2 linked regions of the Homo sapiens genome follow. The protein of the gene in region 1 purifies or fractionates together with the protein of each later gene. This does not show direct contact. Each region holds a gene or a part of one and is shown on either strand. Other genes may lie near its edges.

What was found. The genes of interacting proteins can lie anywhere in the genome.
Region 2: the proteins of SLC6A17 (region 1) and EI24 purify together in Homo sapiens (affinity purification with mass spectrometry; one large-scale study listed by BioGRID and IntAct). This does not show direct contact.

The regions. Positions count from the first base shown.
Region 1 is NC_000001.11:110,156,833-110,160,493, reverse strand, and holds part of SLC6A17 (sodium-dependent neutral amino acid transporter SLC6A17), read right to left. Parts: intron 1-3,661. UniProt on the Homo sapiens protein: Synaptic vesicle transporter with apparent selectivity for neutral amino acids.
Region 2 is NC_000011.10:125,582,201-125,585,215, reverse strand, and holds the end of EI24 (etoposide-induced protein 2.4 homolog), read right to left. Parts: intron 2,871-3,015; coding exon 2,796-2,870; intron 1,696-2,795; coding exon 1,533-1,695; 3' UTR 532-1,532; downstream 1-531. UniProt on the Homo sapiens protein: Acts as a negative growth regulator via p53-mediated apoptosis pathway. Regulates formation of degradative autolysosomes during autophagy.

The DNA.
Region 1 (3,661 bases):
TGCCCACCCTTCACTGCTTCCTACCCAACCAGTGCTTCGCACACACAGATTATCCTACACATTTCTGTGGGCAGAACATGGTATTTACAGGTGTTCTAGGGTCCCTGCCTTCCAACCCTCTGAGAACAACCTGCTTGCCATGTTGAAATCTTACTACTGCCTCACATTTGAAACAAAGAGGCGGGGTAAAACACTAACAGCAGTGACTAGAGAGACATTTGAACCTACCGGAAGTCTGCATGTCCCAGCCAGGGGGACTCTAATCCAGTGCAGCCCTGCAGCACACATGGGGAGAGCCCCAAGACTTGGAAGCCAGTTTGTTTCTTATTCATCTGTAAAATGAGGAGCAGTGCTTGCCTGCTTACCTACCAGCTGCATCTGGTTACCACATGGATGGAAGGAGAAAGAGAAAGAAAAGCTTATTGAAAAATCAAATGAACAGAGTGGTGATTTCTTTTTATTCCATTTCACAGATTTGTCGGGTTTGTGTTTTGGTCTTCCATTTCATACCTCAATTGACACCATCTTTGCTTCTGCAAGGCCAAATCCTGGTATCTTATCATAATATGAGCATGATAAATATGATATGATGGAATTGAATGAGTGCATAAATGAATTGATCCATTTTTGAACACCCCAAAGTTCCTGGAGTCCGATGTGTTTTTCCAACTTCTAGTTTTTTCCATTTTCTGATGCAATATTCTGATGCCAAGACCATATCATGCCCCAAGGATGCCCCAAGTGACAGTTTGAAAGCCAGGATACACTAAGAAGCCTGGCCATCCCTTTGTGACTTTTGGCCACTTTCAAAAGAGCCAGTATTTGTGCTGTACCTTCCCTACTTTGTAGACAGAATCCATCCTCACCTCAGGGAAATCATCTTTGGGTGGGCACAGTCCTGACACACAGCATGGCTTGGGACTTGTGGGACCATTCCAAACAAGAAATCCAGCTGAGGAGCCAGTGGCAACTTCTGCAGCCCTTTCTTACTTTCCTGTTGCATTTGCTGAGTCTGTTCTCTTGAGTCAATATCTTGTTTTCTTTGTCAAGAAGGAAGGGAAGCAGGAAAGGGGGCAGATGGTCCAGAGGGGGAGGAACTGGCACTGAAAAATGTGGGTGTGGCCAGTGCAAACAGATCTTGTGGTTCCATTTTACCATCTCACGTGGGAGAACGCATGCTCTGTGTGCATGTAAACAAGGGCAGCCCCAGAAAGCACCCCCCCAACCCATGCATTCTCTCTTTACTAGAATTCAGGTGCTGAGGGATCCACTGGGGGAACTTCTGAAGGCAGAGTGGGGTGTAGTAATAATAACAATGACAACACAGCACATAGGCCATAATTCTTGAGTCCCATCTCTGTGGCAACCACCATGCTGAGCACCAAACAGATATTAGCTCCTTTAATCCCGCCAGTAATTATATCAGGTAGATACCACTGTTACTCCCATTTTACAAATGAAGACATGGAAGCTGAGAGGGATAATTACCTATATTTCATTGAATCTAGGATCCTTTGATGCTGGCACTTTCTTGAACTTACCAGAAAGGGTTCATCAAAGTTTCCCACCCAACTAGGGTGAGCTGCCATAGACCCACAGCCATTTTGAAACAGCTATTGATTGCATGTCATGTCCTGATTTTAAGATGTGGCAATGTGCAAAAATACACATTTTGGAATTGATGAAATAAGGCAAGTCATCCAAAGCCCCTGGATCTGCACTGACAGACTGACCCTGGAGCCTGACTCTCAACCTCAATGCTATCATGGGTTTTAGAGCCAGGAAAACCTAAAGTCCTGCTCTGCCATTTATGAGATGTTGGTCTTTGGGAAAGTACATAACCCCTCTTGGTTTTACCTTCTAGACCTGAAAAGATAGGGATGAAGGATGCTACACCTCGTAGGGTTGTCATGAGTATAAAATGAGGTAACAAAAGAGTTATGCTCAACTCAGGCCAGGCCCTCAGGGGCATGCCATCAACCAGTGCCAGCTACCACCTTCATGTGAGAACATGTGGGAAATGGGCTTAGCCAGGAATCAAGGCATACTCACCCACATCCCACAACGCCCTGGAGCTGGGTGGGACATGCACGTGCAAGCCCAAGGACACAGTGGGCTGACAGGGGATACTGGGGCTCAGTTCTCCGACTTCTACTCCCCTTTTGGCCTGGAAGGAGAATAGAGCCCAGCGACTTCTATGAACTAGAGGTACTGCTGAAATATGGGATTTTAAAATATGGCATTTAAAATATTTTTAAATCTCTTTCCCTCCTTCTTTTCCTTTACTTCTTTCAACAAATATTTGCTGAACATTATGTTCTAGGCCCTGTTCTAGTACAACAGAGAACAGAGCAAATAATGTCCCTGCTCCATTGGATTTATTTCTAGTGCAGAGGGACAAATAGAAATCAGACAAATATATAATTTATAGTGTACATATAAACATACACTATATCTGATAGTATATATATCAAATAAACACATACAATATAGAGTATGAGGGGATGGAGCACAGCAGGGATGCTACAACAGAGATGGGGGTAAGGACGTATGCTCCGATAAGGTGACATAAAGACTTCAACGGAGTGAGAGAGTGGGCCATGTGGATGTCCTGGGAAAGCATTCAGAGCAGAGGGAACAGAAAGTGCAAATGTCCTGAGGCAGGACCTGCATGCCTGGTGAGTACAAGGAACAGACAGACGGCCATGTGCCTAGAGCACCCTGAACAATGGAAGAGTGGGAGGTGCTGGGCTAGGAAGACAGTGAGTGTCCAGAACAGGCAGGACTCAAGGAGCATGGAAAGGAGTTGGGGTTTTCTTTCAAGGCTAATGGGAAGCTGTTGGAGGTTTTCAAGCAGAGGAGTAATGTGACCTGACTATTTTTATTTTTATTTTATTTTATTTTTATTTATTTATTTTTTTGAGATGGAGTCTTGCTTTGTCGCCCAGGCTGGAGTGCAGTGGCGCAATCTCGGCTCACTGCAACCTCCACCTCCCGGGTTCAAGAGATTCTCCTGCCTCAGCCTCCTGAGTAGCTGGGATTACAGGCGCATGCCAGCACACCCGGCTAATTTTTGTATTTTTAGTAGAGACAGGGTTTCACCATGTTGGCAAGGATGGTCTGGATCTCCTGACCTCGTGATTTACCTCCCTCGGCCTCCCAAAATGCTGGGATTACAGGTGTCAGCCACCACACCTGGCCTGACCTGACTGTTTTTATAGGGATCAATGGCTGCTGGTAGGACAAGTGAAGAAACAGGGAGGGTAGGTAAGCGATGATGGTGATATGGATCAGGCTGTTGGATGAGACTTGAGATTTGAAGAGAAAGGGAAATGAGGACGTGAGGTGCTGAAGGGCACACCAGGTCTCAGACAGATAAAGGACCTGTGAGAGTATACCAATTTGGAAAAAGAAAAATTTTACAAACCAGATGTGCAAATAAAAGTCCAGGAATAACTAGTGAAAGCCTCATTCCCTTCTTTCCTCATTCATGGGGGGACCACCATGGGGACAGATGAGTCCTCACAGCATCTGCCAAAATAATCTGACCTGGATTTTCTTAAAACCACTATTTTCTGTTGTCTTAGAAAGAGACAGAGGGAACCAAGGGTGTTCAATTACCTGAGTTACCAAACGGACTGCTGAAGAGCTCTTGAAGGAA
Region 2 (3,015 bases), on another chromosome or scaffold:
TCCCAAAGTGCTGGGATTACAGGCATGAGCCACCATGCCCGGCCTAACCTATTTTATAGTTAATAGAGACGGGGTTTTACTATGTTGCCCAGACTGGTCTCGCACTCCTGGACTCAAGTGATCCTCCTGCCTTGGCCCCTGCCAAAGTGCTGGAATCCCAGCCATCAGTTACCATGCCTGGCCCCAGCAACAATTTTTAATTCCATATTTTATCTTGCACATAGTAAAGGTCTCTGTTAACCAGATGTTTAACGGCTTCCCTCGATTAATACTCAATACACCAATATCTAGGAGGGTCTTTCTCCCTTCATGAATATACAGTAGCGATATACATATAGACTTTAGAAAAAGTAATAATCTGACTCTTCTACCAAATATAAATGTGATTATAATCATATAATCCAGGCTTTCTCAGGGAACATTTTTCAGGGCTAATTTCTCAAAACTGTAACTAAATTATCCAAGACAAAGTCTTATATTCCATGAATACATTTCTCGAAATCAAGATTTGCAAATTCAACCATTAGACACTTTGTGGGAAACCAGCTCATGTTTAATTGTGACATTTTAAAATTGTACAGGTATTTTGACATCTGCCCCCCACATTTAGTCTCTCAAAATGACAGGAAAACAACCAATCACAGGTTTAATACATTGACCCCTTCAGTTCCTATATGCAGCACCCAATATTCCTTTGAAATATGAAATAGACCTGGCAGTGGCCAACAGTAAATTTCTGCCCGCTGCCTCCCACCACCAACGGAGTTGAAAAGTTCAGGTTTAGTGTTGTTGTAGTGGCACTTGTCCAGAATTGGTACCTCCCCATAGTTGGGGGACTTTAAATGTACCAATGAAAATAGCTTTTTCCCCTTCAAGGGGAAGAAAGAAAATCACTCCTCAAAACCCAGCAGATCTGGCTGTGAGGTCTTTCCTCCTATCTCATCTCTTCAGGCTTTTTTTTTTTTTTTTTTTTTTTTTTTTTTTTTGCAGTGGAGCAAGAGAGACCAAAACCTAACCTGAGTTACAAGAAACAAGACAGTAATGGCTATAAAGGGAGTGACCAGGAGCAACTGGGACACTCCTTTACCTCCCATATCCAATGTATGTGTTTCACAGAAAAACAACAAAATTAACAAATTCACAAAATACAACAGCTAGAATTACAAAATCCATTCATCCAAGGGTGGTAGAAGGCAGGATGGAAAGGTGGAAGGGTAAATGGCACAGGGAGAAAAACAAAGTGTTCCAATCAGTCCAGGCACAGGGACTGGCAAATGCTAGAAAATAGCTGCAGAAAAACCTGTGGTCCTTTCAGACTCACGGTGATGTTAAAAATCCACACACTGGTGTCAGGGAACATTCTGCCTTACGTGCACCAGAGACAAAAATTTCAATTCCTCAGAGAGAAGGGAATACGCAGAGGGCCCTTGGCAGAGCGGGTCCTGCCTTCCCTGGCAGGCGGGAGGTGAACAGGGAAAAGAGCTGCCACAGCTTCTTCCAATCCCGCCCATCCCCTTTGGATGGCAGGCAACTCAGTGACCTGCAGTAGCCTTCAGTTTGGCAGGCGACGGATGCGGTGAAGGGAACTTCTCTGCAGAAGTAGAGCTGCTCAGGGCCGACTGCAGGTAGACTGTCTTGTGGAAGAGTCTGTTGCTTAAGAAGACCACCAAGGAGAAGAGGCGCAACTGGAAGAGACTAAAAGGCAAGAAACCCAACTTGTTAGCTCCCCAGTTACTCAAAATTATTTCCGTTGTTTGACAACTTGACATTAAATTTAAAACTACACAGGGAAAGACAAGACAAATGAAACTTGATCAAGGAAATACAGATATTAGATACATGGATGGAACAGGCAACTAAAGAATACATTGGAGCCGGGCGTGGTGCCTCATACCTGTAATCCCAGCACTTTGGGAGGCTGAAGCAGGTGGATCACTTGAGAAAAAAATTAGCAGGGCATGGTAGCATGCGCCTGCAATCCCAGCTACCCAGGAGGCTGAGGCAGGAGAATCGCTTGAACCTGGTAGGCGGAGGTTGCAGTGAGCCGAGATCACGCCACTGCACTCCAGCTTGGGTGACAGAGCGAGACTCCGTCTCAAAAAAAAAAAGAATGCATTGGGCCCTGCTGCTGCCATGAATGTAATGCAGTCACCAGCGTTGAAGTATTGTGGCTCTTACAGGAAATAGTTATATTTTAGATTAACTTTGATTTGAGAAGTACTTTTCTATGGCTGACTTCGGGGTACAGACTTCAAGCTATGTCTGAAGGTATCATATGCTATCTGTGGTTGCAGGAAGAAGAGTTTCAAAAGAAAGTCAAATATTCCTCTTAAGATAAACAGTGAGCTGTGCTGTATAGCAAGAGCATACAAAAACCCAAAGCAGACCTAAGTCTCTAATACAAGTATCCACACTGACTTAACCAAAATTGATCAAAGATGAATTGAGCTTTTCTTTGAAGTAATAAAACTTTTAGAATGCTATTATTATTGCTAAAAACTCATTTTAAAGTATATTTTACTACTGTTATCAATAAACTCATGTGGCCAGGTCATACAGCCCTCTACTTGAATATGTATAATGGGATCGGTTTTGGAAATATATATATACTCATGTGCATATATGCATGGAGAAAAGTTTGGGTTATATCCCAGAAGTGTTTCTCTCTCATTAAACCTTATATTAAGATTTTCCTACAGTAAGAATTTTTTTTTTTAAAAAGCCTCACTGACATAACTGGTGTTACAGCCCCAACCCTTTACACAGCAAAAATTTCATCACTGGCTAATACTTACTATGCTTTGCCAGGGGTCTTTGCTTCATTGGCGCTGATAATGAATAAAGGAAAGAGGATAGAGAAAAGGCAGCCACTGTTTAAAAAAAAAAAAAAGAAATAATTAGTCACCTTCATAACAGACATGACTTTGAAGAAGATATTAGAAGCTCCAAGTTCTTTTGCTTCCAGTGTAAACATTATGGCTTGATGAAACCTCAATATTTCAAACATTTTTTTTT